Linked DNA regions of Homo sapiens. The protein of the gene in region 1 purifies or fractionates together with the protein of each later gene. This does not show direct contact. Each region holds a gene or a part of one and is shown in the gene's direction. Other genes may lie near its edges. The genes, in order: COX17, HADH, TALDO1, TBCA, SQOR and MSRB2.

Region 1 (5,587 bases):
AATGATACTCTTTTGTTTGGAAGCTCTTTCTTCAGTTATCAACTTAGCTCACCCCCTCACCCCACTCCCTCTTTACTCAGGTCTCTTTCAAAAGTCTCCTTATTAGAGAGGCTTTCCCTCAACACCCCATGTAAATTACATCCCTTCCCCATCACTCTATCATGGTGCTGTCCTAAGACCTTTCTGTGAAGATGGAAATGCTCTGTATCTGCACTTGCCAGTCTGGTAGCCACTAGCCATATGTGGCTGTTGAGCACTTGAATTGTGGCTGGTGAGAGTGAGGTACTGAATTTTTAGTTTGTAAAAATTTTAATAGCTACATGTGGCTAGTGGCTACTCTATTCTATACACTGTCACCTGCATGATACATATATTTTTAATTACCTGTGTTGCTTCACGGCAGCTAGAATGTAAGCTCTGAGAAAGTAGGAATTTTCTATTTCATTTACTGTCATATCCCCACTACCTATAACAGTGCCTGGCTCATAGTAGGTGCTTAATGGAGGATTGTTAAATGAATGAATAAATAAGGAAATTAAAGCTTATAGTTATGAAATGGCCCCCAAGGTGGGTTGTGCAGTATCAGAACTGGAGCCTCAGTCTCCATGCCGATTCCCTCTGCTTTTTGCCCCTACCCTAACTTCCACACCACACTACCACTTTTAACTTAATAACAGCTGAGAGAGAATGCCAAAGCCATATGCCAATATATTAGTACTAGAGAGCCTGGCTTCTTTCCCTTGCACCTCTTTCCTGCCTCTTTGGAATTTCACATATGGCCAGTCTTCCTCACTGAGCTATAAAAAAGGAGGGATAAGGAACTTGTCGCAAGCTGATAAGAAGTTACTGTGTAATGGAAAACAGTCTAGGCTGAAAGTCCTGAGGCTTTGTTTTTATTCTCCTGATGTTTAGTTTATCATGTTTTTAAGTTTAGCTACATTTAGCTTCATCAAGACATTACTCCTCTGAATTTCACTTATTATTTATAAAAAGAGAACCATAATACATTTTGTGATTCTATATATAGTATGGTATATCTACTGTTGTGTAAATGATATACTTAAGTTGCTTTTAGAATAGATGGTTATTTAAAGAAATCCCATAATGAACTATTTTATAAAATAAGTAAATTTGAAGGGGAGTGTGTTCTTAAAAAGTATGTGTACTTTATTAACTATTTTTAAAGATGCAACCTTAACATTTGTACATGGTTTCCTTGTTCATGATCTAACTCCCTCGTCAGTTGTGTAAGCTGTAGGCTTGTGCTGAACTTGCCTTGATAAAAAGGGGTGATTAAATAAAAAGAAATGCTAATTTTAGGAATATCAAAAGCTTATCTTGGACTTCATCTGAACCACAAAGGTGGTACAATTGTTATAAGTGGCATATATTCAAAAGTATCATATGATATCATAGTTTTCTTTATGTTATCAGGGCAGAGAGTGAGAATTATGTTTGTGTACTTCATTTGTGTGTAAAAGAAAATGCAAAAGCTTTAGACTTAGAAAATCTACTGCTTAACTGATTGTGTGGTCTTGGGCAGGTCCTTAACTTTCTGTACCTTGGTTTCCTCATCCGTAAAATGGAGACAATAATACATGCCCAAACTACTTCATAGAGTTGTGATGATTCAATGTAAAATAAATCATCTGTAAAAACCAGAACAGAATAGCTCATACCTTTAGAGTTGTGGATAGCAGACATTCAGTTGAGGTCTGTTAAGTATATGACTTGATTATTATTGAATCCTGGTTACAAGAAGAACAATCTGAATCCATATAGGACCCTTCTGAGAATTCAAACTGCCATGTTTTTCATTTTCAGTGTAATAATATTTTGGGAAGAGGACTGGGTGTTGGATCCTTATTGGTCCCAGGTGTCCTATTTCCCCAACCTCCATGGGGAAATGGAAGCACAGTGAAGTCAAAAAAGACTTGCTCAAGTTAGGAGTGGATAGTGGTAGAATTAGATTAGAGTTAAGATTTTTATATTCTCTAAATCACAGGCACTTTACACTTCACGCCTTGTACTTAATGAGATTTTATTCCAACATATTCATTTTTAGGATTGCACATAATCTTGATCTTCAATCTTAAAACCTCATTATGAATGCTAATTAGAAAGACTTGTTGCGGAAATGTACAGTTGCATATAACCCAGTAAACAGGCCATTGGCTGGAGGGTGAAATCCAACACAACTGTCTGCATTGCTATAAGATAAACTTAACCTAAATCGGTATTTCTTAGACTGTTAGATCACATTTTTCTGAGAATAGCTTCAAAGGAAAAATATTTTGCAAACTTAGATCTCTCTGGCAACGATCATGAAAGTTCCTTAATTCAAAAACCTTTGTAGATTTTAATGTTATTCCTAAGTAGATCTTAATTGTACCTCAAGTGCAGTAGATTGGGAATAAATCTATTATACATTTTTTATACCTTACCTGAAAGTAGGCTACATTCACCCAGTGGTTCTTACCCAGAGGTGCACCTCAGAATCATCTGAAGAATGTTTTCCAGAATTCACAACTTGGGCCCTGGTCTGCACCTGTTGACTGAGAAACTCCTAGATGATTTTCAAGTGCACTCCTCTTTAACAACCACTGGCCTAAGTTGAAGATGAATAGCAGGGATAATGCTAGGCATAAAGTATCTGAAAATTTAGTAGTAGCAAAGGCAGAGACTTGAAAACTCAAGAAAAAATAGGTATGGTGGTGATTTTAGACAATTTTTTTCTATTTTATGACTGCTGCTTTTACTGAAAAGAGTAATTAGAAGAACCTAGAACCTCATTAGAAATATGAGGAAATAGATGGCTACTATCTTCCTGCCTTTAGGAGACAGAAGAAGCCTAAAGAACCTATTTTGGAGACTAAAGTCGTTGAAAGAAATTAAAGGACTAGTACTGAATAGTGGTGATACTCAATATTAAGTTTAACAACTTAACAGTTGGATGCTTAAAATATGCTGAATTGTACACACACACACACACACACACACACACACACACAAAACTGATCATGTATGAAAATATCCCAAGATAATCCAGAAAGAATAATTTCTGCCATTCAAACATTTGTTCATTCAGCAGATATTTATTAAGACCCTGGAAAATACTGAGGAGAGAAAGATTATCCCTCCAGTCAAAGACTTTACATCCAGAGATATAATCAAACAGGTTTAAATCCAGGGTCTTCCACCACACAGCCCCTTTTGTTATGTAGTCAGTCGCAAAAGTCGTAACAATGCTATGGGCTGCTATAATTGAAAGGTTGAATGGCTTCGTTTTTGGTTATCTTTCCAAACTTTTCTATAAATGTATTCTTCCTTTGAGTCTTTTAGAAAAGAGTTTAGATGTTTGTATCTTGATGTGGTTTATCTTTATTTAAACCAAATGAAGTGAACAGCTAAATGAAGGAAATATTTGCATTAGACTTGAAGAGTTAGCTACCCCAATTTAATTACCTTCCTAGCATTGTTCTCAATCTTCTGGGATAGGCACTGGGAGAGGTGTGAGAAGCCTGGTATTGACTTGACTGGATCAGCAACCCTATCTATGCTACTCTCCCTTTTTGATTTTTCCAAATGAATATTAAAGGGTTGCCCTTGTCTTGCCTTTGGGATTAAGTGAGTAACTTTCCACAGGAAGTGCCTTGGGTACTGAGCTGACCTTCTGCCTTCTACTTTGTGGATCTTCGCCAGGCATACTTGAATCAGCAAAGAGGGGTTTGCAGGTCTTGTTTCTTGAATATCTGTAAAAATAACTGCTTTAGCCTTTTTTGGAGGATATTTTTGAGAAATATGTATTTCTCAAACACACACATATGTATTATATATATATACACGCAGAGAGAGTTTTTACTTCAAAAACTTTTAAAGAGTAAATAATATCATGAATAATTTCACTAATGTTTTTAGTTAGGCAAACCTAGAATTTTAAAATGTTGATTTTGAATTTTATGACTGATTTGGAATAATTCTGGCAATTAGTTAATTACTCATCTGAGGCATTCATTTCTAGTGGTCTTAATTCCCTGACTCCATAGATCTGGCATGATGTTTGAAATCTGACTTTCTAAAATAAATATTTTTCTGTAGGTGGTCTGCTGTGTGAATAAATAATTCCTGAAGAATGAAGAAGATTAATTTTGGGAGTTCTTTGACGAACTTTGATATGTGGAAAAAGTATTTATAATTTATTGTAAGAAGAAAGTAAAATATTACTAGTGGAAGATCTTCAGTTGTGTTTCTTTTTTGTGTTCCTCATTTGCTCACGTGGCTTTTTCCCCCAAAGGATATATACCAACAAATCTTGTAACATAAGGTTCTTATGTTCTTATTACTATGTCATTCTGGGAACTCTGGATATCTGTTGTCAGGAGAAAGCAGATACTGACCTCAACCAATGAAATCTCCAGAATTAGGTGCATAGAAGTAAAATAACCCTTTACCAATTCAGAATCAGTGTGGTAGCCATATCATCTCATTCAACACTCTTTTTTTTTTTTTTTTTAACTTTCTTAAAGGTAAGAACAAGCCTTTAGTCTTATTATTTAAACCATTATTGTTATTCTTTACTAGCTGTCTTTTGGAAAAGTTAGTTTAGATTTTGGACCAGATTAGGGTAATTTGGCTTAGAAGATCTCAACTGTTTGGCATTATGAATCTGTACATGGGTAGTTACATTTTAAAATAGACTAGGATCTTAAGTTTCGTGCCTACAGGGTAGACAGTTGTCTCTTATTAATTAGAAACTAATTAGAAATTAGAATTAATTAGAAATTAATTAGGCTAGAGACTGAATTGGTATTAAATGTCACTAATCAAACAGCTCAGTGCTATGCCATGGTGATGCCTGGAGTTGAACAGAGTGTGATTTCCTTAGTATAGCAACCTTGTCATCCTCGTAGCTGCTGATGGGCTAATGAAGTATGATCATATTCTGCTTGTAAGTACATTGAGTCTAAAATCTCAAGAACAAAAGATACTGAGAACATAATTAAGAGGATGTATAATGTTCATGTATCATTGTGTGATGGGAAAAGTCCCTCCTTTATAAAATAAGGAGCTGAATCAGATGATTCCTTAAGATTCTTTCCTAATTCATTAAGAGCATGGCTTTGATGTATGACAGACTTAGGTTCAATAGCTGGCTATGTGACCTCAAGCAAGGCATAGCTTCTTTGGGTCTGTTTTTCTCAGCTGAAAAAAAAAAAAAGGTATAGAAGTAATACCTAACTTACGAGATTGTCAGTACTAATTAAAAATGATGTATACACAGTATTTAGCACTGTTATTAGCATTCTCTATTATTTTATTGTTTATATTTTTACTTGAATATTCATTTGGATATAATACTTTTAGTAAGCACTTCATGATTTACAGAGATAATCTAGGTGAAGAATAGAATCTTGGACAATTAAGACAGGTATGAACCAACTTCCCACCCAATACAGATCTTTGGCAGGTGGTTATCCAAACTCTGCTTGAATATGTCCTGGAACTGCAAAAAAGAAAACAAAAAAATCGATAACCTTATCACCCATTGTTAATTTCTGATATATACTAGTCTAGACTTTTCCTATGC
Region 2 (4,970 bases), on another chromosome or scaffold:
AGCTATTTATGCCATAGGCTGGACACATAATGGAACTGTCATTCTGAAAGGTTATAAAGACCAGAAATCTATAAAGTGGACGACCATAAGAAACAGTTCCATCCTTATGTAACACAGTTTGGAAAAACCTCAGTTACTTTAGTTGACAGCTCCAATCCTCTAAAACATTTGTGAGCAATGCTTTGCAGTGGTTTAGCTTATCTGCTTTTGCACCCTACCCTGTAGCATGCAGTTCTAGGCAGTATTGCTTCATTCTTTATGCTCCTTGACCAACAGCTTTTGGCATAGGGTAAATCTGTTTTGCTTATTGAGTGCCAGAGACGAATTAGTTGATGTGTTTTGAGTACAGATGGGCTACAGTTCAATATAAGAAGTTGGATGGTCTGCATGCTAGCTCTGCCTCATGCAGTATTAACATGGGACTTTACCTCTGTGTCTCGGTTTTCTCATCTCTAAAGTAGACTAATGCTAGTACTGGCCTCGTAGGGAGAGAATTGAATAAATTCAATGAATTCATGCATATGTCAAGCAGTTACATATATCAAGCATATGTCAAGCACTTACACAGTGTCTGGCATGTAATAAGAGTTCACAGAAAGTTAGCTGCCTTTATAATAATTATCTTCGGCCCGGCATGGTGGCTCAAGCCTGTAATCCCAGCACTTTGGGAGGCTGAGGGGGGCAGATCATCTGAGGTCAGGAGTTCAAGACCAGCCTGGCCAATATGGTGAAACCCTGTCTCTACTAAAAATACAAAAAAATTAGCCAGCATGGTGGCATGTGCCTGTGGTCCCACCTACTTGGAAGGCTGTGGCAGAATAGTCTCTTGAACCTGAGAGGTGGAGGTTGCAGTGAGCCGAGATCGCACCACTGCACTGTAGCCTGGGCAACAGAGCGAGACTCCGTCTCAAAAAGATAAATAAAAAGAATAATCATCATCTTCATTGCAGTTGTCCTGTCCTTTTGCCCTTTTCCCCTCATATCCACTCCCATCCTGATCACAGCTGCTGAGGTAGGCCTGTAAGGTTTAGATGGAGAATATTGGTCATGATTCCCTGTTTCATCTTGCTTAATCTTGAATGCATATACCCGCTGATGCTGCAGCGGGTATGTTTTTTCAGGGACCTCTGAAAGGAGGGAGAACACTTTTTAGTTACCCCCCATTTTATTGTTAAACTTTAGTAAAGCCATAAAAGTACAATCACAAACTAGTATTGAGGTTATGTTACTGATTTTCATTAGCTTAATTTTCTTGAACTTTCTGACGTGGTTTTAATGTTAGTCAAGGTGCAGTTCTGCTTATAATTTTAATAGTTTTGTCATTTTAAACACGTCAGTTTGTGCTCAGAAGGATGAAAAAATATTTAAATAGATTTTGTGGGAGCCTGATGCATTTCTCAAGCAATTAAGCAATTTAAGACAAGTTCAGTGCTTAATTACATTTGATCAGAGCACAGGCCATTTGTACATGTGTATTTTCCGAGAGTATCTACTTTGCCTGTCATTTCTTTTGTTTGTTTTAAATTAAAAAAACAAAAAATCCCTTAGACTGCAGGTTAATATTTGAAGTTAACTTGTTTCATGTGTTTGCTTATTACACACTTCTGACTTGGTTTTGATTGCTAATTTATCTTCACTGGATACTTAGGCCAATAAAGAAGCTTATAGGATTAAATGAGCCTTGAGTGGGGGACAGGTTGTTTTTTTGCTTTATAAAGAGGAAAACAAGAAAGGAAGAAAGCTGGTAGCTGTGTGCATTTCTCCAGTATTGAATCCTTTCTAGGCTTTGCTTCATACATTGGGTTTTTTCATATGAGGAGCCCAGAGAGAATGCATAGCTTTCATTAGATTACTTGTGAGGAGCCAGTGGGCTCCCTGGGAACGGGGCACTTCAGATGTCCCCCTTGAGACACTTTACATGCTCTCCGGGTGCAACCTTCTTTTTAGTGCACTACTCTTCTTTGAGGAAGTGAGAAAGTTTGCATCTTAAAGGGGGTTGGGGATAGGTTCTTCTCTCCCAAAGCTTGCTTTTTTTTTTTCCTCCTTTTTAAAAAGCAGAAAGTGCATATTTTTTCTAGAGAGAGCTTCTTTGGCTATTAAAAACAAAGTAAGGGCAGGGAGAGCCTGCTACGTTGCAGGGATTTTGTGTGACTCTACCATGCTTGATAAGGATTCAGGTAGACCTGAAAGCTTCTCCCCAGCCACTGGATTTGTTCTCTCATCTCTTCTTCTTGCCCCCAAATCTGCATTTTCTGATGCTGAAAAAGAGAATGATCAGAGTTGTTTCATATTTTTTTAGCTTTATTCTCTTCTACTGTGAGTACAGCTCTGTTGAGCTGTACAGTACAGTACTGCTTTGCTTGCAAAGCAGTACAGATGCCTAGGAGAAGTTTCAGGATCACAGGAGACCAGCAGTTACCTGGCTGTAAGCTCTCCTTTTGACTGTTCCTTATGGAGGGAATATTTGTACTCCCAGTTGTTACCTTCCTGCTGAAGGACATGAGATGTGTCTGTTTGTTATGAAGTTTTCCCCCTACTTCCCGAGTTGTTGCTTATCTTTGTTGGGCTGTTCTCTGCTCTTGGTTGAGGTACTGGGATGTAGAACCACCCTCTATTAGCATATTAGTTATTGGACTCTGGGTGAGGTTGGAGATACTGTCATTCCTAGAGGGTAGAAGAGGTAGGGCTCACAGGCAACAGAAAATAATGCTATGGGATATGTTTGGACATTTTTTAGAGCAGAAATGGCACTTCAGTCAGTCAGGTTTTGGCATTTTCCTGCCATGTTCTGCCTCCAGCTTTAATCACTTGCCCCTTGCTTGAGTTTCTTCTTTCTTCCCCTCTCCCTTCTCTCTTATCTGTGGTAGGCACACACACCTCACTCTCTAGTTCTCCTGGGACCACAGGAAGATAATGTGGATGTTCTCTGTGGCTCCCCCTGTTATATTCATGATGTTATTATTTCTGGTAGTGGTATTCTAATCTCAAAAGTACAGGCTATGAGGTCCCTGCCAGGGTTTAGATGCTAGCCTTCCTATCCTGCCTTTAGGAACCTTGGGCAAATCACTTAACTCCTCTCTGCCTCTTTACTTACCTGGGAATAATGAGACTCACCTGACAGCTGTGAAAGTTAAATGAACTAATATACAAGCTCCTAGAATAGCATTAGTGTGTTTGATAGTAACTGTCTGATAAATATTAGCTGCTTTCACATAGACCCATCAGACCTGATCTAGTGAGGATTTCTCTTAGATTGTCTTCACTGTCGGAAGAGTTTTGATATAGGGAGTTCCAGCAATTCTAAAGATGTTAAGACTTATTTATGTGGGTTGTTGAGAAAGATAGTGTACCATTTACTGGTTTTTGTAGAGCTAAAACCACTCTACAAAATATGACACTTTATTCTGTTCAAAGAATTTTGATTTATTTAATTTCATGTGACCATTACAATAATCACCCCTGCAGAGATGGTTCCTGGGGTCAATGGTCAGAGGCAGAGCTGGGGTTAGAACTTGAGTTCTCTTCTGTTCTGCTGCCTGTAAATCCCCAAGCCTGAATTCAGTTCTGCCTGCACCTCTGGCAAGTGCTGTATTGTGGGGAGAAGTGTGGCATCCATGGCAGGGGATCCTCTGTGGCTCTCTGGAATCAGTACATCCCAGGTTGACGTCTCCTTGGCTCTGGACTCAAAGTTAGTCTACCTGCTGGTCGTCTACATCAGGGTGCTGTGCTGCCATCCTTCTGCCCATGGTAGACTCAAACTCACCTGCCAAGATCTAATTCATTATTTCCCCTCCAGCTTTTTCCAGAGAGCTTGCCCCTCCTGTTGCTGCAGTTGTTCTTCCAGCCACATGTACTCTGAAGATGGGATCACAATCAGTGTCTCCATACCAGAAAAGGCTCTGTAACTTTTTGGTCATGGGAGAGCTCTTTCCTCTGCCCTCTCCTTTGCAGTTCCTAGACCAGGTGTGTTAACCTGAATTGTCATGGGAGCCTCTTAATTGGTCCTTTCAGCAAAAACTAAAAGAAAAAACCCACTCATCATGGCAAACATTGTCATATTAGTCTTCCTGGAGAGGCATTTGGATTTATAACTCTCCTCTACCCGGAAAGTGTCCATCATAGCAACATCTTCCAGGGATTCTTAAATATAACGATGCTGTTGACATGTCTGGTTATCCCTTTACCTTTTCAGAATTTGTGGGAGGTGAGAAGTCTGGGAGAGGTTATCTGGGTTATTATGAAACCTACACACTTACTGAATTAAAAAAAAACTATGTAACACAATTCTAGTCTAAAAATGGGCGCACACTTTCTTTGCCTTTTAGAAATACTTTTTGAAATGTAAAATTCGAAGTCTAATAAAGGAGTCTGTCCAATTAATTTAACTGTTTGAAGAAAAAAACCAGTCCAGGCATGGTGGCTTACGCCTGTAATCCCATCACTTTGGGAGGCTGAGGCGAGCAGATCACTTGAAGTCAGGAGTTCGAGACTAGCCTGGCCAACAAAGTTAAACCCTGTCTCTACTAAAAATACAAAAATTAGCTGAGCATGGTGACACATGCCTGCAGTCCCAGCTATTCAGGAGACTGAGGTGGAAGAATTGCTTGAACCCAGGAGGCGGAGGATGCAGTGAGCCAAGATCACACCACTACACTGCAGCCTGGCCAACAGAGCAAGACTCCTTCTCAAAAAAAAAAAAAAAAAGAACAAACCAGCTGGTTGTGGTGGTGGTGGTTGACATCCTCAACAGAACAGCTTTTGCTAATTGTTGAAGTCAGGGAAGACAACTTGTGCTGATGGCAGAGTTCAAGACATTACACAACCAGAGACAATCATAAACCCAGAAATGCCAGCCCTGAGAGATGCAACTGATGTATGACTTTTTTCCTCTCTGGATCAAACCATGACAACCGTAAAAGGCAGGCCTTGCTGTTAAGGCGCTGCAGCCTCTGAAGCACAGTTGGCCTCAG
Region 3 (4,970 bases), on another chromosome or scaffold:
TCATGATCCACCTGCCTCGGCCTCCCAAAGTGCTGGGATCACAGGCATGAGCCACTGTGCCCGGCTGCTAGTGTTTTTTGTTTTGATTTGTTTTGTTTGTTTTTTGAGACAGAGTCTCGCTCTGTTGCCAGTGTAGAGTGCAGTGGTGTGATCTCAGCTCACTGCAACCTTCACCTCCCGGGTTCAAGCGATTCTCCTGCCTCAGCCTCCCAAGTAGCTGGGACTACAGACACCCGCCACCATACCCAGCTAATTTTTTTGTATTTTTAGTAGCGACAGGGTTTCACCATGTTGGCCAGGATGGTCTCGATCCCTTGACCTTGTGATCTTCCCGCCTCAGCCTCCCAAAGTGTTGGGATTACAGGCGTGAGCCACGGCACCTGGCCCAGTGTTTTTTAATACAAATTATAGCCTATGGATCCCACTGAGGACCTCTGTTTGTGAGACTGGGTGTGAGTTGCTGTCAGAGCCATTCTGCAAACCTCCAGTGAGGGGAAGGTTGAGGGCAGTGGTTGGTGCTCACGGTGGTGCTGCTCAAAACTGACAGGCAGACACCCGGCCTCCAGCTTGCTCTGCGTGGTGGGCAACCTGCGTGATCTGAGGGGATGGGTTCTTCTTGCTCCTACAGGCTCTCCTTTGATAAAGATGCGATGGTGGCCAGAGCCAGGCGGCTCATCGAGCTCTACAAGGAAGCTGGGATCAGCAAGGACCGAATTCTTATAAAGCTGTCATCAACCTGGGAAGGAATTCAGGCTGGAAAGTAAGTGGTCCCCCACAAGGAAGGAGCTCTCAGAGATTTTTCCTCTGTTGGAGCAGGGTCTACATGGCATCAGGCAAGTTTGACTCTCTCAGCCCTGGGGAATGCCAGACTGGGGAGCACAGCCCACAGCTTGGACTTGACCAGCTCATGTCAGCCTAGATCTGCCCTCTGCTCCAGAGCCAGCTCCCTCACTTGCTGGTGATCAGAAATGAGGGATTTCCCAGGAAGTACCATCCACCCACTCAGCAGAGAAGAAAAGCCACTAGTTAGCACCTGCAGATTCAGATTCTGTCCTTCCTCTGTCCTGATCAACACAAGCCTATGTTTACATGATTTTTAAAAAGTAAACTATTGTTATATAAAATATATGCTGGCTGGGCAAGATGGCTCATGCCTGTAATCCCAGCAATTTGGGAGGCTGAGATGGGAGGATCACTTGAGCCCAGGAGTTCCAGACCAGCCTGGGCAACAAAGTGAAACCTTGTCTCTACAAAAATATAAAGAAATTTTAGGCTGGGCACGGTGGCTCCCAGCACTTTGGGAGGCCGAGGCGTGGGGATCACGAGGTCAGGAGATCGAGACCATCCTGGCTAACACGGTGAAACCCCGACTCCACTAAAAAATATAAAAAATTAGCCGGGCATGGTGGCACACACCTGTAGTCCCATTTAGGAGGCTGAGGCAGGAGAATTGCTTGAACCCAGGAGGCGAAGGTTGCAGTTAGCTGAGATCACACCACTGCACTCCAGTCTGGGTGACAGAGCAAGACTCTGTCTCAAAAAGAAAAGAAAACTTTTAGGCCGGGCACGGTGGCTCATACCTGTAATCCTAGCACTCTGGAAGCCTGAGGTGGGTAGATCACCTGAGGTCAGGAGTTCGAGACCAGGCTGGCCAAGATAGTGGAACCCCGTCTCTACCAAAACTACAAAAAATTTAGCTGGGCGTGGTGGCAGGTGCCTGTAATCCTAGCTACATGGGAGGCTGAAGCAGGAGAATCACTTCAACCTGGGAGGTGGACGTTGCAGTGAGCCGAGATTGCACCATTGTACTCCAGCCTGGGTGACAGAATGAGACTCCATCTCAAAAAAAAAAAAAAAAAAGAAAAGAAAAACTAGCCCACCCCTGTGATTCCAGCTACTTAGGAGGCTGAGGCGGGAGGATCGCTTGAGCCTGGGAAGTTGAGGTTCCAGTAGCTATGATCGTACCACTGCACTCCAGCCTGGGTGACAGAGTGAGACCCTGTCTCAGAAAAACCAAACCAAACATATGTACGTTCAGAGTGGAAGAGACAGAAAATGTATAAAACAAAGTAAAACTCCTCTATGATGTTCTCACCCAGAAGCAGCCAATGCTATACTCAAATAATTCGCATCAGGAAGAGGTGTTTTGTTTCCACATCTGTGTGTCTGCATGTTCTACCACCTGCCATCACTGACCTGCTCTGAGATAGCATCTCACTTTTTCACCACGGCTGGAGTGCAGTGGCACGAACTTGGCTCACTGCAGCCTTGACTCCAGGCTCAAGCTATCTTTCCACCTCAGTCCCCCAAGTGGCTGGGATGACAAGCACACATACCACTCCTGGGTAATTTCACCACGTTCCCCAGGCTGGTCTCGAACCCCTGGGCTCAAGAGATCTCTACCCATCTTGGCCTCCCAAAGTGCTGGGATTATAGGCATGAGCCATTGTGCCTGGCCTCATTTGTGTGTTTTTTTGTTTTTTTTTGTTTTTGAGACGGAGTTTCATTCTCGTCCATGCTGGAGTGCAATGGTGCTATCTCAGCTCACTGCAACCTCCACCTCTGGGGTTCAAGAGATTCTCCTGCCTCAGCCTCCGGAGTAGCTGGGATTACAGGCAGGCGCCACCACTCCCGCCTAATTTTATATTTTTAGTAGAGATGGGGTTTCTCATGTTAGTCAGGCTGATCTCAAACTCCCAGCCTCAGGTGATCCGCCCGCCTCGGCCTCCCAAAGTGTTGGGATCACAGGTTTGAGCCACTGCACCTGGCCGGACCATTTGTTTTTATATGTTGGAAAATACTCCATTTTATGGATAGGCCACAGTTATTCATCTGTTGGTGGACACCTGGTCAGTTTCCATCTCTTGAGCTGTGATGTATATTGCTGTGGTCGGTTTCCATTTCTCGGGCTGTGATGTATGCTGCTGCTCTGAACACATCTGCTGCTATGAACACATCTGCTGCTCTGAACACAGATGTGCAAGTTTTGTCCTGGACATGTGTTTTTGTTTCTCGTGGGCATATGCCTAGGAGTGGAGTCTCTGGGTGACTGCTGGAGGAACTGCAGGCTGTTTCCCAACTCAGCTGTGCCATCTGCTGTCCCCCTCGAACACCCCCGTGTGGCCATGTGGCAGAGGCGCCTGGGGAGGGAACTTGTGTCTGAAGGTGCCTGAGCAGAGCCTTGGCTGTCTCATCCCATGCCCCAGCCACATGGCAAAGTATGGGCACTGCTCCGTCCTTGGGGATCAACCCCAGGATGTCCAAAGTGCACTGGGATTTGGGCAAGTGGCCTAGTGAGGCCAAGGGGCTCCTCTCAGCAGAAACCAGGGTGCTACGGGCCTGCTGCAGGGTGGCCCCAGGAATGGGTAGGGTGGAACAGGGTGAGGACTGGAATGTGGTCAGAGATGACTCAGTGGTTCTAGCCTGGGAGCTGAGCCCTGGTGAGTTCTGGGATGAGGTGACGGCCTGGCGCAAGAGCACGGGCACCCAGAGGGCCTCCCTTGCCTTTGTCTATTGTGTCATGTGGGTTGGAGAAAATCCTGGTCACCCATAACCCACTATCCACTTAGAGCCCTCGAGTCTTACCGATTTGTTCTTAACAATGGCATGAGCCTGTTCCTGCCTTTTTAGTTTAAGGCCCGTGAGCGTCTTTGGCAGCCTGTGGCTCTGGGTGGGCACCTGGCCTGCATTCACCTGCCCCGCCCTCACCTGCCCCGCCCTCACCTGCCCCCGCCCTCACCCGCCCCCGCCCTCACCCATCCCCGCCCTCACCGTCCCCGCCCTCACCCGCCCCCGCCCTCACCTGTCCCCGCCCTCACCTGCCCCGCCCTCACCTGTCCCCGCCCCGCAGGGAGCTCGAGGAGCAGCACGGCATCCACTGCAACATGACGTTACTCTTCTCCTTCGCCCAGGCTGTGGCCTGTGCCGAGGCGGGTGTGACCCTCATCTCCCCATTTGTTGGGCGCATCCTTGATTGGCATGTGGCAAACACCGACAAGAAATCCTATGAGCCCCTGGAAGACCCTGGTGAGGGTCCCTCTGTGGTAATGGGGTAAGGGGAGCAGCCTCAGCAGCACCTCAGGCAGGAAGAGCCCGAGACGGAGCTGCCGCATCAACAAGCAGTGAGGTGCACAGGTCGGCGCGGGGCAGGCAGGGGTGGCGGCTCAAGGTAGTGCAGCCGGCAGGCACTGGGAGGGCAGGTGGGGTGGTACCTCTGCCGAAGCCTTCCTGGTCACAGCTTGGTCTCTTTCCAGGGGTAAAGAGTGTCACTAAAATCTACAACTACTACAAGAAGTTTAGCTACAAAACCATTGTCATGGGCGCCTCCTTCCGCAACACGGGCGAGATCAAAGCACTGGCCGGCTGTGACTTCCTCACCATCTCACCCAAGCTCCTGGGAGAGCTGCTGCAGGACAACGCCAAGCTGGTGCCTGTGCTCTCAGCCAAGGCGGGTGAGGCCCCACTGCCCAGCTGTGGCTCCTGCTCGGGCAAGGCCAGCACTGCCGTGCCACGCTGCCCTGTGGGTGATCCCTCCCACCTGTGGGGCGAGCTCATCTTGGGAGACATGAGGGTGAAGTAGACCTCAACGGAGGGCTTGGCTTTCCTAACACATCTCACTCAAGTCATCAGCCAAGGCTCTGTGGGCTGAACCCCACTTCCAGCGTGAGCCTTGCTGGGGCCAAGGCCTGGCCCTGGTGGGAGATGCTTGGGTGCAGCAGTTCAGGCCCTGAGCCCAAGGGGCCAAGGTGGGCAGGGACATGGAGCAGGCATGGAAGGCTGGTTCTTGTCCCCCAGCCCAAGCCAGTGACCTGGAAAAAATCCACCTGGATGAGAAGTCTTTCCGTTGGTTGCACAACGAGGACCAGATGGCTGTGGAGAAGCTCTCTGACGGGATCCGCAAGTTTGCCGCTGATGCAGTGAAGCTGGAGCGGATGCTGACAGTGAGTGTTGTGTGTGGGTACCTACATATG
Region 4 (4,970 bases), on another chromosome or scaffold:
CATTCATTCTCAGCTGACACTTGCTTCATAATTCCTTGAGAAAATAGAGGCCGTTAGGGAACTTTCTCATATTCTTACGACAAAATCTGTCAACCTATCTGCATCTGTACCTGTACCACTTTCCTTCCTGTAAGAGTGGACTATGTGCCCTAGCCCTTGTTATAACTATCAGTGACATTGTTATTACTCTTTTTTCCCTCATCTTAAATACCTCAATAGCATCTGACACAAGTTACCACTTTCACCTTGAAACTTGACATATCCTCTGAGGTGTTCAAAATTAAAATCTTGATTTCACACTACTCCAACCTACTCTCCCAAACAAAAAACAATTTCTTCTTTCTTTTTCCTCATCTCAGTGAATGGTACCTCCACTCATCCAGATACTCAGGTCAAAAATTTAGTTGGTCCCTTCTTGATATTTTTATCTCTTTCTCATAACCACATCTAATATCAGCATCATCTCCTATTTCTTTTTTTCTTTTCTTTCTTTCTTTTTTTTTTTTTTTTTTAAGATGGAGTCTTGCTGTGTCACCCAGGCTGGAGTGCAGTGGTGCAATCTTGGCTCACTGCAACCTTTGCCTCCTGGCTCAGCTGATTTTCCTGCCTCAGCCTCCCAAGAAGCTGGGATTAACAGGCATGCACCACCACGCGCAGCTAATTTTGTATTTTTAGTAGAGACGGGGTTTTGTCATGTTGGCCAGGCTGTTGAACTCCTGACCTCAGGCGATCTGCCTACCTTAGCCTCCCAAAGTGCTGGGATTACAGGGGTGAGCCACCGCACCCAGCCAGCACCTCCTATTTCTTACTCTCTCTATTTTTCTCTCTATTGCCATTGTTCTAGTCTAGTCCACTATCATCTCTTGCTAGTACTATTTATTGCAAAAGCCTCCCTGTTGGCATACTTCTTTCACCAGGAATGGGACATCCTCCATTCCTTCCCCACCACAACAACTAAATAAATCTCTATAAAATGTACCTCAGATCACTTGGTCTTCTACTTAAAATCTAGTGTTAGATGCATTTAAAATAATTTCCAGATGACAGTTTAAAAAAAGGAGAATGTGAACCAGCTTGTACAGACTATATCTTAAAATTTATTTTTAAAATCAGCTTTATGAACTCACAGTCATTTTTGCCATGTAAATCGTGGCATAATTGGTAATCACACTTAACTCAGGCTTTATTCAGCAAAATTAATCAATCATTTAAAATAGAATTTTTTGTAGGGAGTTGCTTTCTACCGTGCAAAAGAAATGCAGCAGCAGCTGAAACAACCTGTTGGCTGTGTCTTCCCTTGGCTATCTAGGAAGATAGCTTTCTTATTTTATTAAGCTTTTAGGAGAGGCCATCTTCCTTTATTTGTGATACAGCACTGTGTGTATAAAAGACATTTGTGTGTCAGATACTCATAAATTGAGGGAGGATTAGCAAACAGATGTGTAGATATAGTATGTCCCCTTTATTTTTTAATATTAATAAATTATATTGGGCAGTGGGATCTCTCTGTGATGCCCAAGCTGGAGTACGGTGGTGTGATCCTAGCTCACTGTTACTGCCTCAAACTCCTGGGTTCAAGTGATCCTCCCACCTCAGCCTCCAGAGTAGCTGGGACTACAGATGTGTGCCACCATGCCTGGCCAATTTTTAAATTTTTTATAGAGACAGGGTCTTACTTTCTTGTTTAGGCTGGTCTTCAACTCCTGGCCTCCAGTGATCCTCCCACCCCAGCCTCTCAGAGTCCTGGGATGATAAGCGTGAGTCCCCCCTACCTGGCCTTGTCCGCCTTTATGAACTAACGACCCTTCATAAGGATTTACATATGGAATGTAACTTTTTATTCTTAAAATTATGATATATACTGCTTTTGTACCTCTTTCACTCTTAAGTCTTCTATTGTTTTCCTACATCTAGTGGGAAAATATTATGACACAGTATATAACTTTATTTCATCCAGGTCCTTCTTGGACTTCATCAGCTTGTTTTCCCAGTCATGTAGCTAGTGACCTCATTTAGTCTTTTTCTTTGCCCTGCTTTTTTTCACCATCAATAATGTATTTTAAAATAGTCCTATAGCTAAAATAGGAGTTATCAGTTACATGGAGTAGAGGAATAAATGTGTTCCCTTTCTAAATAAAATTTTACAAATAAAGTTATGGGTTATCACAGAACCTGTTTTATTTCATTTATAGTTATGTATGTATCATCTTTCAATGAAATCACTACTTTATAGGTAAAGATTAACTACTGAATTCTGTGTTGTAATTGTCATTTGAAAATACCAGCCACACACTAGTTACATTACTGACTACATACACAGATGTAAAAGGGGAAAAAAAATTGTTCAAAAGTTGTTTCTACCCTCAGACATGTTAAAATTCTCTTTTTGGTCATAGGTATCATATTTTTTAACAGGATTTGTTAGATTCATAGCCAACTTAGTACTTATTCAGAAATAACATTTCATATCTGATTACAGAACAATAGTTGTTTCTGTTTGCTTCTGTTGTCAACCTACCATGTATATAGTTGTCAATTGCAGTTTTGTTTTAGAGTTTCCTAAAAACTTGTCTTTAGCCAACCTACATACATTTCTTAATTTCTTTTCCCTGGCTTAGCTATATTGTGGCCATTCTTTTTTTTTATCATATACAATGGGTGTTGCATAACCAAAAGGACTGCTCTGTTTGTGATTGCCTGGGACTTTAAGTTCAGCAATGGTTTTCTTAACATTTATTGTGCCTTTCATAGAAAATATCAAGACAGCCAAGTGCTGCATTTTGTGGGTTTTCTACACTTCTCCCTAGATTTCTTCCTCTTCTGAGCTAAACACTATCCTCAGTCACTTCTCACTACTTTGGCTCTTCTCTCACTTGGATCCGTTTTGCTCTGGCTTTCCTACTTCTTCTAAATTGGCTGTATTTTAAGCACACAGTTAAGGTGCTATCTCTTATTCTCTACCAAACTCTTACCTGAAGATGGTTGCCAAAAATCAGGGGACAGTCCCTCTGTTGGACTAGTTATAATTTTGGTTCTTTTAAAATAAGTAATTAGGCCAGGTGCAGTGGCTCACGTCTGTAATCCTAGCCCTTTGGGAGGCCAAGCTGGGTAGATCACTTGAGCCCAGAATTTGAGACTAGCCTGGGGCTAGCTTGTTTGCATTAGTCCATTTTCATACTGCTATATAGAACTACCTGAGACTGGGTAACTTATAAAGAAAAAAGGTTTACTTGACTCACAGTTCCACATGGCTGGGGAGACCTCAGGGAACTTATAATCATGGCAGAATGTGAAGGGGAAGCAAGCACCTTCTTCACAAGGCGGCAGGAGAGAGAGAGAGAAGGAGAACAAGTGGGAAGTGCCGCACTTTGAAACCCTCTGATCTCATGAGAACTCACTCACTATCAGAGCATATAGGAAACCGCCCCTATAATCCAATCACCTCCCACCAGGTCCCTCCCTAACATGTATGGATTACAATTCAAGATGAGATTGTGTGGGGACACAGAGTAAAACCATATCAAAGGTGAAACTCTGTCTCTACAAAAAATAAAAAAATTTTATTAGGATACAAAAAATTAGCTGGGTGTGGTGGTGTGCACCCAAAAGTCCCAGCCACCTGGGAGGCTGAGGTAAGAGGATCACCTGAGCTCAGGAGGTCAAGGCTGCAGTGAGCCGTGATCATGCCACTGTACTCCAGCCTGGGTGACAGAGTGAGGCCTTGTCTCAAAAAATACATAAAATAAAATAGAAAATTTAAAAATAAGCAACTAGGTAAAAGTTTTCAGGAGGCTAGAATATCAGTCAATTAAAGATTTATTCTGTCTTTTTTTATTTTCTGGCTAAACAATATAACACGTCATTCAAATATTGCCCAAATTGATTTTAGCCTTCTGCTTCTGATATCTCTCTTCTTCTCCACCAATTAGGGTTGGGTACAGAGGGTTTTGCCCTCACTTGGTAAAGCTTTCTGGTTTGTTTTTCAACCTATCCTGGGGCATAATGATTGGCAGTAATGACACTCAGTCAGACATATCTCTGTCATTTCTCCTGAGGCACAACTTATCTCTTAGGTTCCAGAAGTAATAAGACAAACTGGTATAATTTTTGGACAAAGAGTTCTCAGTTTTCTCACAAAAGAGTTTTCACAAAAGCTTTGCAATTATTGCATATAGTTACAGTAATGTAAAATTCATCTTTTTGAAAAAGATGTATATGCTTTTTTTTACTCTTTGAAACAAGAGTGAACATTTACAATGACATGTTTCTATGTTTTTCCTAAAAATAAAGGGGAAATGTTTTTCATTAAATATATGGAAAATATTAGGAGGCTTCAGTCAACAAAGAAGATCCCCCTTTGACCAGGAGTGTCTCACAAGGCTGATCCTCAAAGAAAAACCCAGATTTTCTTTTAATCAGTAGTAAAAATATGGAAAATAACTTACAATCATCCAAGAAAATGTGTTTGTCTCTTGGTACCTATATGCAGGCTTATAGAAGGTAATACACTTGCTTTTTAAATTTCTTGTTATAGATTTCACAGGAAATTCCAAAAGATATTCAAAGAGGTGTCGTTACATCCTTCATCCTTCCTTCCCCAATGTTAGTATCTTGTATAAATATAATACAGTATTCAAACCATGAAGTTTGCCTTAGCACACCACAGAGCTTACTCATATTTCACTAGTTATACCTGCACTCATTTGTGTGTTTGCATGTATAGTTCTCTGCAGTAGCATGTGCAGCAACCAATCAAGATGGAGAACTGTTCCATCGCAAAGCTCCCTCTTGCCACTTCTTTTTAGCCACCCAATCCTCTCTGCTCCCAAAACCCTAAATAATTACACTGCCTCAAGAATGTCACATAACGTAGAATGGAATCTACAGTATGTAACCTTTTAAAATTGGCTTTTTCTATTTTATATAATTCCCTTTAGGTCCATTGAAGTTACTGAGTGTATCAATAGTTT
Region 5 (4,970 bases), on another chromosome or scaffold:
AAAGGAAACCTGAAAATTACCTGACCAGAGGCCAACTATGAGTGGTGGGGTTGAAGGGGAGCTAAGTCGTGCTTCTTTATGTACTAGAATGTGAGAAGTCAGGCTCCCACTGGCTACAGCAAGCAGAAAAACAAGGTGTTCTTTCATTTTTTTTCCCCCTATATAATTCAGTCAAAACTCTTAACTTTCATTTGAAATAATCCAATTGACTGACATATTTTTTCTTTCCTGGAATCTGAATGCAAGCATTTTCCTTATGTAAATATAATTTGTGTTTTCTGCTTAGCAATTGTATTGGTTTGGTGAAATTGTCAGTTCTCTTGTTACAATGCATTCTCTGATTGTAAAATAAGGATAGGTCAGGATAATTTGTAGGAAATTTCTCAGGAGCAAAGGGAGCCACTGTTTCATTGTAAAGTCCTCATTAGCAACTCTTAATCAGTAACTCTGCAAAGAAAATTCCTACAGTTTTGCCCCTGAAGAGTGAGGGAACTAAAGAACCCCAGTGCAGCTCCCAGTCCTTGAATCATCAGAGAGCTATATAGATTGTTCCTATTTCCCCAGTGACTCAGTCCTGGCCCACTACTGGTGTACTTGCTTCACAGCTTAATATTTAAACAAATGTTTGGATTTATAACAGCTCCAGAGGGAGAGTTTCAACATGGCCCTGCAGGGCTAAGTGAAGATTGCTCCATTTTCTTTATTTGTTAACAGTATAGTAATCCAGTTCCTGAACACACAAGGCAAGAATAGCACTGCCATTACTCAAGCAGAGGTGTGCCAAGAGGAAGAGCACAGCTGCTATCCTTTCTCGGAACAACACTCATTCAGTTTTCAAGGGGGGTGCTTTCCTTCTCCCTCACAGTGCCTTGGACCTTTACTCCACTTTGAGTAATTCTAGTATTGCTGCTCACATCCTGTCTTCATTATATTCACCTGAACAAGTGGATATAATGTCATCGTTCACATTCTTCCTTCTTCTTTATCCCCTATAGCTGATTGTCGCAAAAATGTCAATGTGTGTCTCACATTCACACCCCTCATCTCTGTTCCCATTCAGACCCCACCCTCACTGTGCCTGAATTTCTGAAACAGCCGCTTAATGGATCTTCATATTCCTGGTCTTTCCTGTTATAACAGACAGACTCTTCTTACCCATCACTGGCTGTGCAGTGCCTAGCACAATCCCTGGCATTTAGTAAACAATCAAAAATGCTGAACTCAACTGAATTGCTCCAGTTCATCCTCTCAGCTTCCCCTGGGGACTCTTTATAAATCCAGTTTTATTAAGACCTTCCAAGGGCTCTCACTGCCATTAGCAGTAACCACAGGCTGAAATGCACACCAGGGCTGAGCAGGTAACAAATGAACAACATAGGCTGAGTGGGGCTGGAGTGAACTGAAACCTTGTGCATGGTGGAGAAGACCAATGACTGCTCAGCTCCAGCCAAGAGTTTCCATGTGAGAATGTGGGCTTAGTGTTAGAGGCCAAGAATCTGGAATATTTTTTGTCGAGATCTCCAAATTTTTTAATGTTGATGACTAATTCAAAATTCAAGAAAAGCACTGTGAGCCAAGCAAAACACAGCTCTGGCCTGCACTTGGCCTGCAGGTTGCTGCTTTGTGACTCCTAGATCAAATTGCCATTGTCTGGGAATAAGCTCTCAGACCTAAACTTTAGTAACACATGCCTATCCAATCTCATTTCTCCCTCTTCCCAGAGCGCTAGACTGCCCTCCTTTATATCCACCGTTAGGAGATTCTCATTGCAAGTGATTCTCCTTTCAAAATCTTGAACCCAACTGTCCAAAAGTAGCCCGAACAGGTCCCTGACATAACTTCCCTTTTTCTGCTCACATAATTCCTTTTTCTTCAGCTGTCTAGATGTCAACTTTGACTTTTTTTTTTCTTCCAGAAGCCTTTCCCACGTCTTCCGAAATTATTCTCTCTTCCCAGCCTCTATCTTATCTGAATCTTTGTTTGCATTTCTAATGCTAACACCTAATTCAGGAGCTTATCGCTCACACCTGGACCACTCCAATAGTCTCCTAACTGATTTGTCAAAATTAGCCCATGTGAAACTGGTTTTGTTTCTCCTCCAACAGGAGGGTTAATTTGTTCCAACACCAGAAGATTCTCTTACTCAAAGCTGCCCCTTTGTGCGATCACTTTCCAGAACTTTGTTTTCCCATGTAAAGCCTCAATGCCCTAGCTAAAAGAGTGGGAGGGGGTCAGGCCTGGAGAAATTGCTGTCTCTCAGCTTGCATCCTTACATACAGTGGGCGCTCAATGAATACTTGTGGACACATTCTTTTTTCTTTTTGAGATGGAGTCTTGCTCTGTCACCCAGGCTGGAGTGTAGTGGTGCGATCTCGGCTCACTGCAGCCTCCGCCTCCCAGGTTCAAGCAATTCTTCTGCTTCAGTCTCCCAAGTAGCTGGGACTACAGGTGCGTGCCACCACGCCCAGCTAATTTTTTGTATTTTTAATACAGATAGGGTTTCACTGTGTTAGCCAGGATGGTCTCAATCTCCTGACCTCATGATCCGCCTGCCTCAGCCTCCCAAAGTGTTGGGATTACAGGCGTGAGCCACCATGCCTGGCCTGGAAACATTCTTAAACAGCAGCAGAATTGTGACCATGCGAATTTCATGTAAGTCTATTTCACAAAGATACACTTACATATTTAGCATAGCTAAATGTAAGTAATTTAATCGTATATCATTTGCGCAGGTAAAAATTCTCCTAATAAAAATTCAGCTTAGATTATCTTTCCTGATTTTCAGTTCTGCAAACTTAGCCCCTGTGTGATTGAGACAAATTCAGTGTAGGTATAAACCTGAATTTGCACATAGACTTATATGCTGCAGAAAACTTGTTTCTCACCTTCTTTTCTGAGCACTTCTGGCTGATGCCCTCCTTTATCAAGGTTAAATGGATAAAATAGATGTGAAGATTTTTCTTGGTGGAGAAGATATCTTAAGTTTCAATAGAATGGAGGATAGTATATGACAAAGGAAAGGAAGGCCACGTGCTGCTTCTTCTAGAGCGGTTACTGCCTTAAAAACTCAAACTGTAGCTATGTTATTTAGTTGCAAAAATTTATAAAAATTTAGCTCAATCACCCACAAATTGTAACATTCTTCGGTACTATGTAATTAAATTGCATTTTAGAGACGGCATAGAGACGGCGTATTTTTTTTTTCTCCTTTTTGAGACGGAGTCTTGCTCTGTTGTGCCCAGGCTGGAGTGCAGTGACGCGATCTCGGCTCACTGCAACCTCTGCCTCCCAGGTTCAAGCGTTTCTCCTGCCTCAGCCTCCTGAGTAGCTGGGATTACAGGCACCCGCCATCATGCCTGGCTAATTTTTGTATTTTTCAGAGACAGGGTTTCACCATGTTGGCCAGGCTGGTCTTAAACTCCTGACCTCAAGTGATCCACCTGCCTCGGCCTTCTAAAGTGCTGGGATTACAGGCATGAGCCACCGCGCCTGGCTTTTAAGATGCCGCCTGACAGTTTAGTGGATATGTGAGGAGAAGAAGCCGAGCAAAAATGTGTTAAACATGTAAAAGCTTCCATCTGACTGAATAGTTGGCACATGCATTTTAATCTAGATGTATTACAACGTACCTGGGATTTGTTTTAATCAAGTATGGTGAGGCCAACAGATCAGGAGGTGACTGCCATGAAGGAAGAAGCTCTTACTCACAGTTCCCTAGAAACAGGAGGCATAACACCTCACATGGGGCCATATGGGAAAGCACCTGCGTAGGTGAAGGGGCAGAAAAAGTGAGGGGAAAGAACAGGCAAAAGACTGTATTGTGAGGCAGGGGAAAGGGCTGGCTAGGTTTGGGATTGGCTAGTTTGAATAATTTTAGAGTGCTCCAGGATTCATGAGCTGCCTATAGTTGTAGTTGTCTGATGCCTGGCCCTGGAATAATAAGGGCAGGGGAAAATTGCCTCTTGCAGGGTTAAAGCCAAATAGAGGAGGTGGTTCAGAATATGGCTCTGGATTGATTGGTTTACATATCAAAGGTGTGGTCATAGGCAAGCCAGGCAAGCCATTTACCATCTCTCAGAGTTAGCTAGTCCTGGGAGGGGCAGTCTCTGGGATTAGCAAGACCCCAAAATGTCAAACCATAAAAAAATACAGACAATGAAAAACAGAATTAATACAGCAGGATTCAGAATATTGACAGGAAGGGGAAACAGTCAGTTGCCTTCCTGGTTTCATGAAGTATCTAATGCAGTGCCATTGATATGTGCTGTAAATATTACTGGACACGTTACTTGCATGTATTTTGGATTAAGAGGAGATTATGCTAAGGATCTCATTTATGGGCTAATGTTTGGCATTTTCTTGGCAACCAAAGTCATGCTAATCAGGTGACAGTAACAATTTCCTTTTTAAGGTATTTCCAGATTTAGACCCGCCTTCTTAGAGTTTAAGTCAGAGGGTGTGATGGTTAATTTTATGTTCCAGTTTGACTGGACTATGGGGTGCCTAGAAATTTGGTCAAACGGTATTCTGGGTGTGCCTGTGAGGGGGTTTCTGGATGAGAGTAACATTTGAATGGGTAGATTGAGCAAAACAGATTGTCTTCCCCAATGTGGGTTGGCCTTACGCAATCAGCTGAAAGCCTCAGTAGAACAAAAAGGCGAACACTCCCGTGAATGAGAGACAATCAGCCCTGCCTGCCTGAGTGTCTTGGAGCTGGGATATCGGATGTTCTTCTGTGTTGAGAGTCAACTGAAACATGGCTTGTCCTGTGTCTTGAGCTGGCCTTGAGACTGAAACTGTACCATAGGCTCTCCCGGGTCTTCAGCCTGCTGACTACAGAATTGGGACTTAGCTTCTATAATCTTGTGAGCCAGTTTCCAGGAATGTCCTTCATGTAATAGGGAAATGATGATGTTTGCTTTGGTTGCCTCCCTCATTCCTTTCACCTCCTCCAGTTAAATCTTGTTTTG
Region 6 (4,970 bases), on another chromosome or scaffold:
GCTCACTGCAACCTCTGCCTCCCAGGTTCAAGCAATTCTTCTGCCTCAGCCTCCTGAATAGCTGGGATTACAGGCGTGCTCCACCATGCCTGGCATTTTTTTGCATTTTTAGTAGAGATGGGGTTTCATCATGTTGGCCAGGCTGGTCTTGAACTCCTGACTTCAGGTAATCCACCTGTCTCGGCCCCCCAAAGTGCTGGGATTACAGGCATGAGCCACCACACCTGGCCAACTTCCTCTTCTTCACAGCTGCTAACTAGTGCCAGTGTTGGAAGCAGGCATTTGAGGGGACCGGCCATAAAGGACCAGCTCACTACTGTTTGGATTTCTGCAGCTAAGTTTAGGGTTTTAAAGAAGGAAAACATCCAAGTGTACCCAGATGGTAGGCTCAGTAGGTTAATTTGAAATTGTCTTTTATACAGCTCACTGCAAATGTGCTGTTAATACTACCACAGGGAATTTGGATGTTTAAACTGTGAATTTTTTGAGTTGGGAAGCCTGGAGGGATCTGAAGATTTCCTGAGTCAGCTTTGTCACTTGGTGAGCTGTTCTGTGCTCTGGCTTTCCTCTGGCCCATAGGAGGGGACAGTGCCTGCCGCCAGGCCCTGTGATAGCGGATCTTCATGGTCAGCTTGTGCAAGGGTTGTTTTTTATTTAATTTTCTTTGACAGGGGAGATGACAAAAGAAATTGGGCAAAAATGGTCTTTAAAAAAAAGTCATCAGCCGGGTGCAGTGGCTCATGCCTGTAGTCCCAGCATTTTGAGAGGCCAAGACATGCAGATCACTTGAGGTCAGGAGTTCGAGACCAGCCTGGCTAACACGGTGAAACCCCGTAAAAGTACAAAAATTAGCCAGGCGTGGTGGCGTGCACCTGTAGTCCCAGCTATTCGGGAGGCTGAGACAGGAGAATCACTTGAACCTGGGAGGCAGAGGTTGCAGTGAGCTGAGATCGTGTCATTGCACTCCAGCCTGGGTGACAGTGAGACTTCATCTCAAAAAAAAAAAAAAAATCAAGTTTGAGAAATAACATTTTAAAAAATATTGACTTGGCTAATTCATTGACTTGTCTCCTTGTTCTCCTCTCAGAATACCTCTGAAAACTTGCAAACCCTGTAACCCACAATGAACGCAGTAATTTCATCTAAGTAGTAACCTGGGCACTGAGGGGGTGGGGAATCTAGCTCATTATTTAACATTTATTAAGTATGCTGTGTCCTAAACATTATGTGAAGCATATTAAAGGCAAAATGCCTGATCTCACTGAACTATGCTTTTTATGTATTTATATTCTGTCTTTAATTGGAGATTTCAAAGTATGTTAGACAGTGGACTAGATTCCTGTTGTATTAACTCTTTTAAAAGGGAGACCGAAATCTCACACAGTCACAGAGGACAAGACTCTGTTTTCTTGCTTTTTCACCGACTTTGATGCTCTTGGATGAAAAGTCCTGTATGAATACAAAGATTATCAAAGTCATAATTTGAATATTGGGTGCAATAAAGCCCAGGCTGTAAATACATCTGCAGGCTGCTTCATTGGGTACATTATAATTTTCTCTCTGGCGTTATTTGCACTTCGTCAAATTAGTACAGAAATTCCTTGATTTGGGGACTTACCCAGGATTTAAATCTGCTGTTTCAACTCCTGCCAGTAGTATGAGAAATCTGAACATGACATATCTAATTTACTTTCAGCCTTTCAGTGGGATCTACCTGAATAACAAGGAAGCAGGAATGTATCATTGCGTGTGCTGCGACAGTCCACTCTTCAGGTAAGATAAAGAATTGAGAGCCACGGAAGGAGACCAAACCTCCAGGTTCTTACTGCTTTGTTTCATTTGAGATCTTGGATAAATAAATACCCATAATACCCATTTTGTTTTTTAAATTGCTCTTCTCATTTTGCATTGTTGCTGTAAGGAGAGCTATTCATATAAGATACTTGCCTGTCTTGACTTTTTTTTCTAGCATTTAGAGCCATTAACAAGACTTCTTAGCTTATATTCTTCCTTTCTCTATCCTCAAGAAATAGCAAGGAAATAAAACTCAGTGGGCCCCTTATGATAAAGCTATTAGAGTTTTTTTTTTTTTAGAGGGAAAGTATTTAAAGAAATCTAAACCGTGATTATATTTGCTGGGCCATGTGATTAAAACTCTCTCCCAGGGAAAATGGGTTTATAATTTAATTTAGGAAATGTAGAATTTTATGAGGATAGATTCCCCACAATGCTTGACAGTAGCGAATACCATACCCTCTTCTATATAGCTAAAAGTAAACTTATTTGTCCCTTGATTTCAAAGCCTCTTTTAAGTCAATCAGGATCTGAAATCTCTCAACAAAGGCTTTTTTGTTTAGACATGCAGGAAACAGTCTTAAAAAAAAGTAGATTCGATGGAGAAGAAAGGAAAACATCTTTGAAGTCCTATTTTTCAGAACTTCAAAGATGTTTTCCTTTCTTTTGCATCAACCCTAAATTGGTTTAGAATAAAATATAAATCAAGCCAGCTCTGTGCATTGCCCATTAGGCAGTGCTTCCTTCTGTCCTCTGGGCTTTGAGCAGTCTGGGCCTTCCTGCCCGGCTGGCTGCTAATGTGGGCTGCCTTAGGAAGCCGGACCCGCCTGCAAGGATGAGGAGCGATTAGCATCGATTTTCCTCCGTGCTCACAGATGGGCAGGCCTTTGCCCGGATGCATTCACGTTGGCATGGGGGAAACTAGAAGGAGGTTAATTTTTGCACAGTAAAATGTGGGACTCAGGTTTCTGAGACAATAGTTATTTCTTGACCTTTGGTTGTGTTAAAGAGGAGAGGTAGGATTTTGAGATGGCCCATGAGCTTTCAGCCATAGAACCATGCTGCCAGCGTGTCAAGGGCTCCCTTGTTACCGCAGGCACCAGGCAGTGCTCTGTCTCCCTCTTTGCACTGTGAATACAGAAGATAAATCATCCTCGCAAGAGCATTCTCTTAAATCACAGTCTTCACTCTTCCCCTTCCTTGATGTTCCGGTTTCTGCATCTGAAAAAGGGGGGGACTTCTTCCCTTCCTTTCACCTTGCAGGCTTAGTTGTGGTGTCAGAATACTGGAGCCAGGAGGGTCCTGAGTCCAGAGCAGAAAGCTCTGTCCAGTAGAACTTCCTGTGGTGATGGAGATGTCTGTATCTGGCCATGTGGTAGCTGCTCATCACATAAGCTTGTTAAGCACTCAAGGTGTGGCTAGCATGGCTGAGAAGCTGACTTTTTCAATTTAATTTTAATTAATTTAAACTTAAATTTAATTTTAATTAATTTAAACTTAAATTTAATTTTAATTAATTTAAACTTAAATTTAATTTTAATTAATTTAAACTTAAATTTAATTTTAATTAATTTAAACTTTAATTTTAATTAATTTAAACTTAAATGTAATTTTAATTAATTTAAACTTAAAAGGCCACATGTGGCCAGAGGCTACTATATTAGCACAATGCTAGTTCAAATTAAGGAAGTTAAGTGACCAACTCCAGGTCCTGGAGGTTGTGAAGCAGCCAAGACTAATAGGAAAACCAGCCGATTCTCCAAAAGCCCATTGACCAAGTGGCCAGTTTATGAGACTGCCAATTCACTAACTTTATTTGTTTTTGTGTAACCATTTAGTTTGAGCTGAAAAGTTTCCATTTTGCATTCTTAAAGACTTCTGAGTTTGTTTCTCTTCCCCTTTCCTGTTGCTGCTACTGCAGCTGAAGGAAATAATATATTCCTGAAGATTATTTATGTTCCAGAATATACTATTCTTAAAGATGCACTCATTTATGGGAGAGGCAGTAGAATGGTTAAGATTGCCAAGGTGTATATCCTGGCTCCATTGCTGTGTGACCTTGAGCAAATTTCTTAACCTTTCTGTGTCTGATTTCCTCACCTGTAAAATGAAGATAATAGTACCTAATTCATAAGGTTGTTGGGAGGATAATCTGAGTCATGAATTAATACATGGAAAAGCATAGAGCAATGCCTGACATGACTGACTCAGGCCAGGCACTTGATGCAAGTTAGTAATGATGTTTTTGTTGTTTTGTTTTGTTTTTTGAGATGGAGTCTCGCTCTGTCGCCCAGGCTGGAGTGCAGTGGCGCGATCTCGGCTCACTGCAACCTCTGCCTTCCAGGTTGAAGCGATTCTCCTGCCTCCTGAGTAGCTGGGATTACAGGCGTGTGCCACCATGCCTGGCTAATTTTTTGTATTATTAGTAGAGACGGGGTTTCACCATGTTAGCCAGGATGGTCTTGATCTCCTGACCTCAGGTGATCCACCCGCTTTGGCCTCCCAAAGTGCTGGGATTACAGGCGTGAGCCAGCGCACCCGGGCGTAATGATGTGTTCTTAAGCAATAGATCCCTCTTAGGGCTGTATACATGAATGCGCTTTTGATCCTGAGGAATTCTGGAGGATATATTCTAATTAATGAGAACATACAAATGCAGACTATATTCCTGAGACTTCTTCCTGTTCAAGAGGAGTTTTAGAAATATATTCTGGTTTTGCCTCTCATTTTCCTTCTCTTTCTGTCTCTGGTCTCCAGTCTCTATAGTAGGAAGCAGAGGTACAGAAAAAATAATTCCTTCAAATGCTTGTGTGGAGTGAAAGTGAAGGGAAAGTTGGTCAACCAAAACTAAGTAGTTCTTTTAACAAGTAAATGCAGGGCTCACTCCTTTGAGCTCCCTGCTCCAGCTTGGCTGCTTCCTGCCTGGGACTTCCCTTCATGCTGAGCTGGCCTCCTGGGATCTGCTCAGCCCCACTAATACTAATTGAAATTCCACTTATTTTTGGATCCCAGATTTCTCCTGAAACCTTCTCTGATAGCACACACCATGGGTTTTTTTTTAATCTGCTTCAAATTCCTATTAATTTATCAGTATCACACAATTTAGGACCTAATTATTCTCCTATTGGATCAAGTATTTTATTTAGTTAAGGAGATAAACTTGATTAGCTTTCGAG

What was found.
Region 2: the proteins of COX17 (region 1) and HADH fractionate together in Homo sapiens (co-fractionation; one large-scale study listed by BioGRID). This does not show direct contact.
Region 3: the proteins of COX17 (region 1) and TALDO1 fractionate together in Homo sapiens (co-fractionation; one large-scale study listed by BioGRID). This does not show direct contact.
Region 4: the proteins of COX17 (region 1) and TBCA fractionate together in Homo sapiens (co-fractionation; one large-scale study listed by BioGRID). This does not show direct contact.
Region 5: the proteins of COX17 (region 1) and SQOR fractionate together in Homo sapiens (co-fractionation; one large-scale study listed by BioGRID). This does not show direct contact.
Region 6: the proteins of COX17 (region 1) and MSRB2 fractionate together in Homo sapiens (co-fractionation; one large-scale study listed by BioGRID). This does not show direct contact.

The regions. Positions count from the first base shown.
Region 1 is NC_000003.12:119,668,177-119,673,763, reverse strand, and holds the end of COX17 (cytochrome c oxidase copper chaperone), read left to right. Parts: intron 1-4,098; 3' UTR 4,099-4,232; downstream 4,233-5,587.
Region 2 is NC_000004.12:107,992,207-107,997,176, forward strand, and holds part of HADH (hydroxyacyl-coenzyme A dehydrogenase, mitochondrial isoform 2 precursor), read left to right. Parts: intron 1-4,970. UniProt on the Homo sapiens protein: Mitochondrial fatty acid beta-oxidation enzyme that catalyzes the third step of the beta-oxidation cycle for medium and short-chain 3-hydroxy fatty acyl-CoAs (C4 to C10).
Region 3 is NC_000011.10:759,494-764,463, forward strand, and holds part of TALDO1 (transaldolase), read left to right. Parts: intron 1-628; coding exon 629-760; intron 761-3,850; coding exon 3,851-4,026; intron 4,027-4,253; coding exon 4,254-4,451; intron 4,452-4,794; coding exon 4,795-4,940; intron 4,941-4,970. UniProt on the Homo sapiens protein: Catalyzes the rate-limiting step of the non-oxidative phase in the pentose phosphate pathway. Catalyzes the reversible conversion of sedheptulose-7-phosphate and D-glyceraldehyde 3-phosphate into erythrose-4-phosphate and beta-D-fructose 6-phosphate.
Region 4 is NC_000005.10:77,702,353-77,707,322, reverse strand, and holds part of TBCA (tubulin-specific chaperone A), read left to right. Parts: intron 1-4,970. UniProt on the Homo sapiens protein: Tubulin-folding protein; involved in the early step of the tubulin folding pathway.
Region 5 is NC_000015.10:45,640,891-45,645,860, forward strand, and holds part of SQOR (sulfide:quinone oxidoreductase, mitochondrial), read left to right. Parts: intron 1-4,970. UniProt on the Homo sapiens protein: Catalyzes the oxidation of hydrogen sulfide with the help of a quinone, such as ubiquinone-10, giving rise to thiosulfate and ultimately to sulfane (molecular sulfur) atoms.
Region 6 is NC_000010.11:23,108,546-23,113,515, forward strand, and holds part of MSRB2 (methionine-R-sulfoxide reductase B2, mitochondrial precursor), read left to right. Parts: intron 1-1,696; coding exon 1,697-1,773; intron 1,774-4,970. UniProt on the Homo sapiens protein: Methionine-sulfoxide reductase that specifically reduces methionine (R)-sulfoxide back to methionine.